Linked DNA regions of Homo sapiens. The protein of the gene in region 1 interacts with the protein of each later gene in a biochemical or structural test. Each region holds a gene or a part of one and is shown in the gene's direction. Other genes may lie near its edges.

Evidence for each region.
Region 2: the proteins of GABARAPL1 (region 1) and STK3 form a complex in vitro, tested with the Homo sapiens proteins (2 studies listed by BioGRID and IntAct).

Annotation. Positions count from the first base shown.
Region 1 is NC_000012.12:10,208,492-10,215,896, forward strand, and holds the start of GABARAPL1 (gamma-aminobutyric acid receptor-associated protein-like 1), read left to right. Parts: upstream 1-4,385; 5' UTR 4,386-4,638; coding exon 4,639-4,728; intron 4,729-5,157; exon of another isoform or gene 5,158-5,471; intron 5,472-5,562; exon of another isoform or gene 5,563-5,878; intron 5,879-6,150; exon of another isoform or gene 6,151-6,576; intron 6,577-7,405. UniProt on the Homo sapiens protein: Ubiquitin-like modifier that increases cell-surface expression of kappa-type opioid receptor through facilitating anterograde intracellular trafficking of the receptor. Involved in formation of autophagosomal vacuoles.
Region 2 is NC_000008.11:98,542,664-98,549,688, reverse strand, and holds part of STK3 (serine/threonine-protein kinase 3), read left to right. Parts: intron 1-1,527; coding exon 1,528-1,720; intron 1,721-7,025. UniProt on the Homo sapiens protein: Stress-activated, pro-apoptotic kinase which, following caspase-cleavage, enters the nucleus and induces chromatin condensation followed by internucleosomal DNA fragmentation.

The DNA of each region.
Region 1 (7,405 bases):
ATTTTCCTAGTCTTGGAGTCAGCCAGGCACATCGTGGTGGTATTTGACACTTGATCTGTGGATGGCAGCTTATTTAAAAATTCAAATTAAGTAATAAAATCCCTTGTTTAAATTCCAAGCTTAGCAAGCAAATTTAGAAAATGGCTGAATAACTAAACCTCTAGCTATTGTATTTGTCATTGGAGACCAATGCACTAAAATTCTGGTTTCATCTATCAATTTAAATGTGATAATATAAGAGACCCTGGGCCAGGTGCAGTGGCGCACACCTGGAATCCCAGCACTTTGGGAGGCCGAGGCAGGCGGATCACCTGAGGTCAGGGGTTCGAGACCAGCCTGACCAACATGGCGAAACCTCGTGTCTACTAAAAATACAAAATTAGCTGGTGTGGTGGCACATGTCTGTAATCCTAGCTACTTGGGAGGCTGAGGCAGGAGAATCGCTTGAACCTGGGAGGTGGAGGTTGCAATTAGCTGAAGGGCAACAACAGTGAAACGCCATCTACACACACACACACACACACACACACACACACACACACACACACACAAAGAGAGAGAGAGAGAGACCCTAAATCGAAGAAATCAGACCTATCTTTATGGTAAATTCCACCTGTTTTCAGATTCAAATGCTTGAGTGGGGGAGAAAAAAAAGTATGTTTGGGGCAATTGAGAAAATATAAATATAAGCTCTATATTAGATAATGTTGGAAAATATTAGTAGTTTTTAAGGTGTAATAACTATTGTGGTTATGGAGGAACATGTTCTTATTCTCAGGGGGGATATAATTTGTATATTGGGATGGTGTCATGTTTCTAATTTACTTTTTTTTTTGAGACGGAGTCTCGCTCTGTCACCCAGGCTGGAGTGCAGTGGCATGACCTCTACTCAATGCAACCTCCGCCTCCCGGGTTCAAGCGATTCTCCTGCCTCAGCCTCCTAAGTAGCTGGGACTATAGGTGCGCGCCACCACACCCGGCTAATTTTTTGTATTTTTAGTAGAGACGGGGTTTCACAGTGTTAGCTAGGATGGTCTCGATCTCTTGACCTCGTGATCCACCCGCCTCAGGCTCCCAAAATGCTGGGATTACAGGCGTGAGCCACCGCGCCCGTCCTCTAATTTACTTTCAAACGGAAAAAATCTAGGTGAAGGTTATAGTGGTGTTCATCATACTATTTGTCAAAATTCTCTACATGTTTGAAAATATTCATAAAAGATTGAAAAAACTTCTAACCCTTGAAATCATTTTAAAAAGTACAAGAAACATCAAAAATGTATTTGAGAAAATGTGAGCTTTTTAATGTAGTATTTTGATTTTGGTTAAATAAGACATTTTGAAATGTTTTACTCGATTGTGTTAATTTAAAATTTACTTTCATAGGCCGGATTACATCTGTAATCCCAGCACTTTGGGAGGCCGAGGAAGGTGGATCACTTGAGGTCAGGAGTTCGAGACCATCCTGGCCAACATGGTGAAACCCCGTCTCTACTAAAAATACAAAAATTAGCCGGGAGCGGTGGCAGGCGCCCATAGTCCCAGCTATTCGGGAGGCTGAGGCAGGAGAATCCCTTGAATCCGGGAGGAGGAGGTTTTAGTCAGCCGAGATTGCGCCCCTACACTCCAGCCTGGCGAAAGAGTGAGATTCTGTCTCAAAAATAAATAAATAAATAAAAATAAATACAAAACTCACCCACAAAATTAAAGAAACTAAGTTTCATTACTGGCACCAGAAAACGAATCACATAGTCCCACTTCTTCATGTATTTTTCTTCATGGCATCTTTCAATCTTTATGTATAAAAATTCATGAGGGCAGGGCGCGGTGGCTAGTACCTGTAACCCTAGCACTTTGGGAGGCCGAGACGGGCGAATCACCTGAGGTCAGGAGTTCGAGACCAGCCTGGCAGCATGGCAAAACCTCGTCTCTACTAAAAATACAAAAAAATTAGCTGGGCGCGGTGGCGGGCGCCTTGTAATCCCAGCTACTCAGGAGGACGAGGCCGGAGAAAATTGCTTGAATCCAGGAGGCAGAGGTTGCAGAGAGCCTAGATGGAGCCATTGCACTCCAGCCTGGGCGACAAGAGAGAAACTCCATATCAAATAAATAAATAAAATAAATAAAATCCATGAGTTATTTTATCACATTATATGTTTATAATTTTAAGTCTTACTTTCAAATTGAAAACAGTTTAATTTTCAGTCGCTCATGTTAGGTTTTTTTTTTTTTTTTTAGACAGAGTCTAGCTCTGTCGCCCAGGCTGGAATGCAGTGACACGATCTTGGCTCACTGCAAGCTCCCGCTACCACGCCCGGCTAATTTTTTTGTATTTTTAGTAGAGGCGGGGTTTCACGTGCTAGCCAGGATGGTCTCGATCTCCTGACCTCGTGATCCACCCACCTCCGCCTCCCAAAGTGCTGGGATTACAGTCGTGAGCCACTGCGCCCGGCCTCATTTTAGTTTTGATGCAAATATAGTTAAACCCTCCCGGGTTCTCCCTTCCGGGTTCAAGTGATTCTCCTGCCTCAGGCTCTCGAGTAGCTGGGGACTACAGGCGAGCGCCACCAGGCTCAGCTAATTTTTTCTGTATTATTAGTAGAGACGGGGTTTCACTCGTCTCATGTTGGCCAGGATGGTCTCTATCTCTTGACCTCGTGATCCACCCACCTTGGCCTCCCAAAGTGCTGGGATTACAAGCATGAGCCAACGCGCCCGGCCTATTTTTATTTATTTATTCTTTTTGAGACAGAGTCTTGCTCTCTCTCCCAGGCTGGAGTACAGTGGGCGATCTCAGCTCACTGCAGCCACTGCCTCCCGGATTCAAGCGATTCTCCTGCCTTAGCCTCCACAGTAGCTGAGACTGTAGGAGCGCGCCACCATGCCTTGTTAATTTTTGTTTTTTCTGTAGAGACAGGGTTTTGCCATGTTACCCAGGCTGGTCTTGAACTCCTGAGCTCAAGCGATCCTCGGCCTGGGCCTCCCAAAGTGCTGGGAGAACAGACGTGAGCCACCGCGCCTGGCCCCCTGTGGGTGTTTTTAAAATTAGAGACACTGAGACCCCGACTGAAGAAGATAGGCCACGGGGCTGCTGTTATCTAATATTTATCAGAACTCACCCGACTTGTATGGGCAACGCAGCCCCTTTTCACTGTTCTTTTTCTTTGCAAACTCCACAGTCCTCCCTGTCGCTGCCCTACAGTACTGGTTGGAAGGTCTTTCTTCTTTGACTCTAGGTGGGGAAATCCAGAACGAGGCTTCGCCTCACCTGCCCTAATGCCCAATCTTCTACTAGCATTCCAGGCAGCGCTTTCTAGTCACGTGAGGGATACCTAACCACTGGAACTAAATAAGATGTGGGGGAACAACTGAGGTCATCACCTAAATTGCTTGATACTCTCTTTTCCAGAAGACGAGCCCCCTTTCTGAGTTTATGGCAGAAAGTGAATCCCTCCCTCCCTCCCTTCCTTTCTTTTTCTGTAAGACGGTGTTTCGCTCTTGTTGCCCAGGCTGGAGTGCGACGCCGTGATCTCCGCTCGCCGCAACCTCCGCCTCCCGGGTTAGAGCGGTTCTCCTGCCTCAGCCTCCAGAGTAGCTGGGATTACAGCCATGCGCCACCACGCCCAGCTAATTTTGTATTTTTAGTAGAGACAGGGTTTCTCCATGTTGGTCAGGCTGGTCTCGAACTCCTGACCTCAGGTGATCCGCCCGCCTCGGCCTCCTGGGATTACAGGCGTGAGCCACCGCGCCCGGCTAGAAAGTGAATCATTTCTATATTTGATTGTACGTGAAGCCCTCGGTAGTCCTTACTGACATCATGTCTCCTTTAGACTTTGATTACACTCCGTGTCCTTCATCTGACTCCTCTCTTCAGATTCCTGAGTCACGCTCTGTTTATGTTGCTGTTCAGGAGCGAACTGCGGCACCGCCCAAACACTGTGACGCCAGCGCGGGAGGAGGGCCGCGGGAGGGGCAGCGGAACGCGCAGAGGGCACGGTGCAAGCACGGGACAGCTCTGCATTGGCCAAAGGGATCCCAGGAGGCCTGGCCCTCTTTTCTCCTGAGGCTGGATCCCAACCAGCAGGAAAAGGCTGGATTTTCGCCTTTTGTATTTGTTTTGGGGCCCAACCAAGAAAAACAGTGGAGGGGGAATAAAACATGTTTAAATCTTTTTTTTGTCTTAAAACCATCTTTAATTTCACAGTCACAAAATAAAACATAACTCGAATGTTTTGATGTTTGCAGTGACATCGATTGTGAAAAAGGTTAGCCAGAAAGGAAACGCAGTGAGACAGAGCGCTCGGCCACCCCCTGCCCTGGGCGCCTGGCGCATGGGGGGCGGGGCGGGGCTCGCGGGGTGACGTCACAGCCCGACGCGCCACCCAGCTGTTTTTGTGCTCCCAGCTCTAGCGAAAAGCCGCCGGTATTTCTCCATCTGGCTCTCCTCTACCTCCAGGCAGGCTCACCCGAGATCCCCGCCCCGAACCCCCCCTGCACACTCGGCCCAGCGCTGTTGCCCCCGGAGCGGACGTTTCTGCAGCTATTCTGAGCACACCTTGACGTCGGCTGAGGGAGCGGGACAGGGTCAGCGGCGAAGGAGGCAGGCCCCGCGCGGGGATCTCGGAAGCCCTGCGGTGCATCATGAAGTTCCAGTACAAGGAGGACCATCCCTTTGAGTATCGGAAAAAGGAAGGAGAAAAGATCCGGAAGAAATATCCGGACAGGGTCCCCGTGAGTGTAGAGGAGCGGAGGGGATGGGAGGGGAAGGGCCCGCGGGGGCGGGGGCGGGTAGTCGAGATGGCTTCCCTGGGGCGCCCAGGCGGCTCTGGAGAAGGGAGGTTCCGAGAATTACTTAATCCTGAACGCCCTTCAGTGCCAGAGCCAATGGACGTCCAGACTGTAGAGCTTTTAAAACCCCGTATGCCTGGGCCCCGAACCCCACTTCAGGGCTGACGGCGTTTTGGGGGCCGAGCCGCCGTCTTCAGTGACTCAGCAACCCACACACGGTCTCAGCAGCTGAGACCGTGTGTGGGTTGCGGTGCACAAAATAGGGCCCCTGTGGGCGAGACTGGTTAGATCGGGGCCATGGATTGGCTGCCTTTAAGAACGCAGGGACATTGTGCTGTGCGGTGAGGTTTGCGCAAACCCAGTCGATTTCTGCCTTGGCTGGTTCTCCTTTAATGAAGTTGACTTTGGCTCTCATATCATTGGTCTTGGGACGAAAAGGTTCAGAAGCTATTCAGTAATTTTCTTGCATTACAGGGGGTTAGGGGAGCACAAGACAGTCCTGGCCTGGAAAACAAGGTCACGTTCTCTGCCCAACAGCCCTCTTGCCTCATCGTTCTAGGCTCCGGGGCTTGTGTGGGGACAGCCAGCCTCCTCGTGTTGATTTCTGATCACCTGGTACCTGGTCGCGATAAGGCAGGACTGAGACGTTTTTTCTCCGTTTTGGACACCGGCTTAAGTAGTTAAAACTACCGCAGGCAGTGAGTAGGAACAGAAAAGTATTAGGTATCTTTCAGCATCCGGGCGTTTTCCCCATTACCCCCTCCCCCGCCCACTTGCCTGGTGTTTCTCTAATGCAGGCTGCGCAGCCGAATTGGAGGGCAGAATATGGCTTAAGTGGTAGGGGGACCAGCAGCTGTTGGATTTTGGAAATGGAGGAGCGGAGATTTTAAAATTGTGCTCTTTATCTTCAGGTAGGAACATTAGTATTACGTGTCACATAATGGTAAAATAATTGCTGTTATCTGATGTCTTTTCTTGACTCACAGCCACTCTGGGTTTCTTCTCTAATCCTTACCTAACGTTCGTGGTTTTATAGCTACCAGAAGCCACCAGGGCCTTAGCCCAGCAGTAGAAACCTCTTGTAACCCTTTTCCTTTAAAAAGAAAAAAAAGTCATTAGGGCTCTTCATTCCCCAGGAATTACAAAAAGGTTTTCAGCTTATAGAGGGGTGAGCTAATCCCTTACTCGGGAAAGGATCCTTTACAAATTACTTTCCTGGTTTCTGGACCTTGGATACCTGAAAATTTTGCCCAGTTCTGGTGATACCAATCTTTTGAGCAATGATATTTAAAAAATACAATCAAGTTTTATTGATAGTTTACCCTAGCGGTATTATAAGTACTCAGTCTGTAATCATTGACTTACTTCCTTACACGATTACCCGTTCTACAGATGGAGTATTCAAAGCACAAAGAAATGCAGTAACTTCCTAAAGGTTTCACATTGCTGATCTGTGGTTGAGCTGGAATTCCAACCCTGTCTGAAGGACTGTGGAGCTCTCGGGTATCTTAACCTCCATGCCATATTGTTTCTCAGTTTCTAATATAGTTGTATTAACCAGAATTAATGACGTGCTGTGGACTTTACACTGTTAAGTATTGGAAATAGATAAATATTTATGTGCATTCACTCTGAATATTTTAGAGCATTCTGTTCTTTTCCTGCTCATAGTTTGGTGTTAAATGTTTTACTCCTGTGATAATTTTTAAGCCATTAAGCCTGTCACTCAGATTTCAGCTTTCCTAGGGTTATGTTTTAACCAGTGGTGAGCTGCTCCCAAGGTGACCAGTCTGTGACCTTCTTTCTAGTTATGACGCAGGTTCCTTGATTTGGTTCTAGTTCTGGGAATTCATTGCATCCTTGGGCAGAACTCTTAATCGTGCTGTGCTAGAGTGTCTTGTTTACAGAAAAGAGGGTTAGAGTAATGATTCCTGAAGCCCATTCCAGCTTGACCATTGGTGTTATTAAAGCAATGGCGTACCCTGACTGCTCGCATAACCAGAACTTAGCCCCACCAATATTTCTTCAGAGCCAGCGTTGAAAAGAAGAGGTGTGCTTGTGCCTTCAGAGAGGAAGGGTTGGTGGGATCTTGAAATTATCTTCAAAGATACAACATATCAAAAAAACTGTTAGGAACAGATTGTCTATTTTAAAAATTCATAACCCTACTGAGTATTAGTCACATTTTACAAATGAGGAAAACTGAGACCCAAAGAGGCAAAGCATCTAGCCCAGGGGTCTACCATAGTGAGGAGTAGAGCTGGGATTCCTGGAAACTTAACCTTGGTACTGGGAAACCAATATTTTAATGATTACCCCTCCCCCTTCTCTTCCTCTCCAAACCCCTCCCTTCCCTCCAGGTATTGCCCTCTGCTTTATCACTTTCTTTATCTGTCTTCCTTTGTGGTTTTTATCTCTTACTGCTAGGTGTCCGAGTTCCTTTGGGGCACAATGCTAGCCTCTTTCTGCCTTTTCCTTTTAATTCCTGGCTTACGTTACCCTATTTCAGTTTTTATTTTTAAATTTAAAATGTGATCATGTCCCTCTGGTCTTCCTGGTTCAGGATTTTTTCTACAAGAACACAAAACAACTTTTTGTTTTGTTTTGTTTTTGTTTTTGT
Region 2 (7,025 bases), on another chromosome or scaffold:
TAAAGAGCACTTTTAATTTGTACTTTTATTACTGACTTGATTCTTCTGTGAAACATTTAAAAGCTGAGATTTGTCAACAAAAGCAAAAAATTGATAAATCAGACTTCATCAAAATTAAAAACTTACATCAAAAGACGCTATAAATGAAGTAAAAAGCACACAGAATGGGAGAAAATATTTGCAAATTATATCTCTGGTAAGGAATTAATATCCAGAATTTGTAATAACAACAGAAAAACCAAACAACCCATTTTAAAATGGGTAAATGGATATTTCTCCAAAGAAGATATACAAATGGCTAATAAGCGTGCGAAAAGATTGCTCAACATCAGTAGTCATTAGGGAGATGCAGATCAAACTACAATGTGATAACACTTCATGTTCATTAGGATGGCTATTATTTTTTAAAAATGGAAAATAACAAGTGTTGCCAAGGATGTGGAGAAGTTGGAATCCTGTGCATTGCTGGTGGGAGTGTAAAATGGTATAGCCACTGTGGAAAACAGTTTGGGCACTTAAAAAATTAAATATGAAGTTACCATGTGATCCAGCAATTGTACTTCTAGGTAGATACCCAACCAAACTGAAAATAGGGATTCAAACAGATACTTGTAGGTCAGTGTTCACATTAGCACTATTCACAGTAGCCAAAGGTGTCAACAATCCAAATGGCCATCAACAGATAAATAGGGAAACAAAATGTGGTGTATTCATACAATGGAATATCATTCAGCCTTAAAAAGGAATGAAATTTTTCTACCACAATATGCATGAATCTTGAATGCATTAGGCTCAGCAAAATATATTGTATGATTCCACTTACATGAGGTATCTAGAATAGGCAAATTCATAAGTATAATAGTAATTATGAATTAGTACTATGGTATGAATAGTAGTACTCATGAATTTGCCTATTCTAGATACCTCTTGTAAGTACAATAGAGGTTGCCAGGGCTGGGGAAAGGGGGAATGAAGAGTTCTGTAAACATATAATGGTGGTGGTTGCACAACATTGTAAATATACTTAGTGCTACAGAGTTATACACTTAAAAATTGCTAAAATGGTGAATTTTATATATATGTATTTGTATATTTTGCCATAATTTAAAAGAAAAAGCTAATGGCTGTTTTACAAGGTTATAGACATCATTATGCCCATTATAATACAAAGTGTCAATGTGTTCTGTCTTAAAGGTGCTCTCATATATATTTAGTTGTTTTGTCACCATATTCTTTGTTATGCATTTGCTGATAGTTTACCTATCTTAATCCTTATTTTAAAAGCAACTAGCAGCCTTCTACTTCATCAGTTTCTGTTGCTTGATCTGTAATTACCTAAAGCTTTAGGTTATTTTGAATAATTTTCACTCTTAAAATAACATTTGTATGTATGTATTTATATTAAAATCAGTACTAATAGTATTTTTAATAAGTATTAAAACTATAATATATTCATTCTCTTGTTAAGAATTAAGAAATCCAGCTGTCATAGAAAAGTCTTCCCTCATTGCAGTATTTTGCTTGCAGGATGAAGATGAGCTGGATTCCCACACCATGGTGAAGACTAGTGTGGAGAGTGTGGGCACCATGCGGGCCACAAGCACGATGAGTGAAGGGGCCCAGACCATGATTGAACATAATAGCACGATGTTGGAATCCGACTTGGGGACCATGGTGATAAACAGTGAGGATGAGGAAGAAGAAGATGGAACTATGAAAAGTATGTGGCTTTTTTACATTAAATATTAGTTTTCTAATTCGAAAGGATACTTTTATAGGAACCAGGCTAGTTCTGTGTTACTTTTTATAGCCAACTGTGGAAAATTTTGTTTCTTAGATTTATGTAACAGTAAAAAAGAGTATGGCACAAGTCACCTTTTTAAAATTGTATTTTAATATAGCAGAAAACAACACATCTTCAACTTAGAGTTATGGAACTTTTTTCTGTTGAAGGTTGCTAACCCACGGCTTAATTTGCAAAGTATTTTAGAGAGAAAAAGATAGTGTTCCTAACATTTACTTTCCCAATTAAAAAAGTGAACCTAAAATTATCTTCCAGTAAATTCAACAGACTATTATTTTATGTTGTCCAAATTATCAGTTAAACCACAAAGAGCAGTGCGAGCTATGGGAAGAAATAAGGTGGGAAAATAAGAAGCACTAGAAAGAAGGATTAAGAGACAGGGATGCTCATACAGAAGATTCAGTTGCATGAATATTTACTGCTGCTTATCATATGTGAGGCACAGTGCTGGGGGTGCTGCAGTGGCTAAAATGATGATCAAACATTCTCTCTGACCTCTGTTGCTTACAAAGTGATGACAATAGGAATGCTTTCACAGACTAGCACTTCTCTTTTTTAAAAACAGTTTTTTAAGATACTGCAGTTAACATCGTAGGTCATTGTGATTTCACAGTTATAGGCAAAAATGAATTTTCTCTTAGCACCAACTGACCTTTTTCTTCCTGTCATGCTCCTACCCTAGTCCTGTGTGGTTAGTGTCAAAGTCTAAGCAAGCACTAGGCTGCTTTCCACTGAAGAGTATTGCCTCTCCATGGCAGAACAGCAGAATTACATGACTTCTAGCATTGTAGAACCTAGAAAATTGTAAATATTCAAGTGATTTGCTGGTACTGCAAAATGGATACCAGAATTTTCTCTCAGATACTTCCATTTCCTTTTTGCCCACCCTTTTCTTTTTGCTACTCCGCCATGAGGTCTGACCCATAACTTCAAGTCACGTGGCTCAGTACTGCTGCTTTCTTCACATTCCCTAGTTCTGTGTAGCCCACTATGGTTGCATATGTACTTTGGATAGAGAGGATCATGAAGCACAAAATGTAATAGATTGCTATATTGCCATAATCCTGGGGGTGGAGTATGAATTTTCTATCTCCTGCCATTGGTGGGTCTTCTGTGCCTTTTTCCTGGAAAGCAGCCTACATCTTGGATTTCCTGAAATTCCTAGCTGGGCATCTGACTAGAGTAAGTTTTCTGCATCCATAACGTGCCTCACTCCACTGCAGAGGATGGTCTTATGGCCTCCAGAACCAGCTAGTGTTGGGGTACAAGTGGATCACAAAGACTCTGTGGTAAAACAGTTAACACATTTTTCATCAACATGTAATATCAATTTTCCATAAGCTGATATAATTTTTAACTCAAATTTTATGATTCTTAACAGATCAATTAGATCATTGAGTGCTTTTTTGTGTCTTTAGGGAGTTACTGAGCTCCTTATGAAACTATATGAACAACTTTTCATGCAGTCATATAGTTGAACATCAGCATATATATAATAGTTAAGAAAAATGAGTCTTTATAGAATCTAATTCATTTAGATTGCAGTGTATTATATTTCAAGGAAGAGAGACTAATGATGATGTTTCCGACATCATACTTTATACCACAGATTTCTGACATTTTGTATAGTGACTTTTAGATTTGACATCCACAAAAATCAATACATGTTATAATTTTGTTATAACTGATTGTATAGGTATGACTTTTTGTCACAGAGATTTTAGTGAAAACCAATTTTGAAGTTGAACAGATAAGTGGTTTTTATAGCTGCAGTTGTTTTATGGACCTCAGCAAATTTTAAATCCCATGAGCCAACTTTCTGTGTTTTTTGTTTTTACAAGTTAGACATCATTCTGTAATGTGAGACTTCAGTGTTTCCAAAATTCTAATCAAGTGATGTTAGTATAACCCCTAGGGATTGTCATATTGTAGTATAGCAGTAGTAAAGTATGTGAAGAAGTTATTGAGGGAAGACTTACTTTTTCTGAAACCATATAATTATTGTAGTTTTGTTTTTCTCGTGATCTAAATCTTTAAAACTTCTTAAATTAGTTGGTATGAGGTCTCAGCTTATGTCACATCAGTCAAAGCCACATTTGCTAATGTGTCTTTAGCATTTTTGTTCCCTAATAAGATGATAGCAGTATATTATTTTTGGTTTTCTAAAATCTCTACAATGTGTACTGAAGATTTAGAATTTCATCTCTTTTTCCATTGGAGTTTCAAGTGAGTTGCCTGATTTAACATCCTTGTCAGTTTAAATTATGTTTACACTTACTCTTTTATACCTTTAACCATGAAGCTAGAAATTATGGGCCTATTTTCCTTACCTCTAGAAAGGAAAATTACCCACAGACCCTTTGAAGGGAAGTGGAGAAAAATGACAAAAAGTATTTTAAAATTTGATCTGCCTTTTAAAAAATGGACGTGGACCCTATGGGCATGTCCCAAGAATAACTTTCTAAACCTGTTTTTAGCAATGATGGCATTACTTTTACCCTCCCGCTCCCAGTCTTCCTATTCAGATATCCCTAAGGCCTCCTCATTCCCCATGGAATGTCCAGGCTTCAGCTGTGTCACCAAGATCCTTCACAGTCTGGCACTAGCCATTATTTACATGTGGATCTCTACTTCTTCCTTATGGATTATGTTTTATCCATACTAGTCTGTGCCAGTTGGAATTCTGAATGCTTGACACTGGGTAAAAGCAGGTTGGTTGTCATTCAAGAAAATCAATTTAGGATTTATTATCCTGGAGTAGATTAGGACCAGGTCAAGAATCTATGTCATCAAACTGATGGGGTAGGAGAGATTATTTCATCATGGGTGACTCTGGGAGAGTAGTAGCTTCAGCAAAGAAAGACTGGGGCTTTTTAGTTTGTTCAGCTCAGATCTACTCAGTTAGCTCTGTTTTTATGGAGGAACTTTCTGATCTTACAGAGCTGTGGCTAGATTGGTAGCACTAGTTGCCCTGGAGGGAAACTATGTCTTATGGGTATCTGAGGAAGAGCCATATTTTCCAGCCAGGTTTTTATTTTTCATGTGTGTATCTGTTGTTTCTCCAGATAAGTCACGAAGTTTGTCCTGGTAAGAATGCTGTATAAATCTCCTCTGCCACATAATAGTACATGCTCTTGGAATATTGGTTTCATGAATGAATACTAATTACAGTAGAGTCAGAGTCAAGCTGTGTGTGTGTGTGTGTGTGTGTGTGTGTGTGTGTGTGTGTGTGTGTTATAGTAGAATTAAAGATACATAGCTCTGGAAGCTAAGAGAACTTTCAGGTAAACCTCCTGCCTTGGTAAGATACTTTCTTTTCAAGTGTTCTACCATCCCTGCTTCTCATTTCACAGAGCAGACCCTCTGAAAATGTGTTCCTTAAGATACCCATTCAGTGAAATTCTCTGATAAATATAGATAAATAATATACAGTAATCAGAATTATTTGGGAAATGCATATTTATCCTAGAGATAAATTATTAGAGAACTACAGTATATATTATTAACTTATTAAATACAAATAGTACAGGAAGGAAACAGTTTAAAAATTACATTACCCAAACTTTCCTTCACTTATTTGACCATGAAAAGCTTTTAATGAGGAACGTATCAGTGATTAACATCCTGTGTAATAAGCATCTGAGAAACACATTTTGGGAAATGCTATCATGAGAGCCCTCTAGTTCCCTGACCCTAGTTCCTAGTCTGCTTTCTTTTTATTAGCACACCCTCCCTTCACTTCTATATCCAGCTTAGAGGCTATATTTCATTATTTCGTTGCTTCTGCCACTCTCGTATGTTCTAAACTCCTCTTAGAGGCTATATTTCATTATTTCATTGCTTCTGCCACTCTCTTATGTTCTAAACTCCTCTTAGAGGCTATATTTCATTGCTTCTGCCACTCTCTTATATTCTAAACTCCACTGCCCTAATGTCTTGTCTTTTCTGCCTCTCCTGGAAAACTTTGATATGGTCCAGTCTCAGTGTTCATCTTCTCTGCATCTTTACCCTGGCTATTGAGTGCTGCTGGAGATAATCTTCCATCTGCACAGATGAGGGCTGCCAGATCAAGACCTTCTCCCCCATTTGGGCCCTCAACTTTCCTGGAGGCCTGTGTTTCTCTGTTCAGCAATTCCTCATTCTACAGAGTGGCTAGTTTAGATCTTCACTAGATCTCTTCTTCCTGCCTCCCATCTCAGTTTCAGTAGATGACGTTGCTCCCTACTTTACAGAAAAAAAGTGAAATGTTATCATGCAAGTACCTAGAGAAGCTGTATAGGTGTTTTAAATGTGGTCTTTGGAATAAGGTTGAAAAATTGAGTCATTCTTAATTTCCGTTTCTTCCTTCACCCTTCATGGAAGTAACATCTCATCAGTTCTGCCCCCTAAATATCCCTATTCTCTTCTCATGATCTCTGCTTGCATTTCTTTAGTGCAAGTCCTCATAGTTTCTCACTTGTGAGGCTTCTAAACTGATCCTCTGCCTCCAATCTTCATTCCCTCCCCACCATACAGATTTCAGCACATTTCTCTTCTGCTTATGCCCTCCCAGTGACTACCAATTGCTTATAGGCTAAAGCTCAACACCAGTTAAGAAGCAGTATATGCTCTGGTTCCTACTTACCTTTCTATTCCCTCTTCATCCTTCTTCCAGCTTCTCAGCTCTTACAGAGCTTTTTTACCTTTGGCCACTTGCAATGCCTAAATCCTCCTGTGGGATTTATGCTTCTTTTGCTAAATCATATTCATTCACTCAGGCTCAGTTAAGAGGTTGCTTCCTCTATCAACCCCAGGTTAGGAATAAGTGCCCCTCTAATAGGCTCCCATCTCACCCCAAGCTTTCACTCTTACAGCACTGTCATGCTTTATTGTGAGCGTGTGCTTTTGTTTATTTCCCACTGTATTTTTGATACCTAATACAATACCTAGCACTTGGTAAGAGTTCATGAAATGTTTTCTGAACAAATGATGTGGTATAGTGAAGAGCATGGGATGTGAAGCCAAATCATTTAGTAATTGTGTTGCTTAATTCTGTCTGAGTTTCAGTGATAAATATTTGTCTCTCTGTTGTGTGTATATGTGCAGGTGTGTGTATTAGGTAAATTCAAAACATGCCTAGCAGTGTTTTAAATATAGTTGATAATCAATAAAGGATAATATTCATCTGTCCACCCTATTAATTTATCCTTCCAACAACTTGATAAGAGGGAGCATCCGGGAA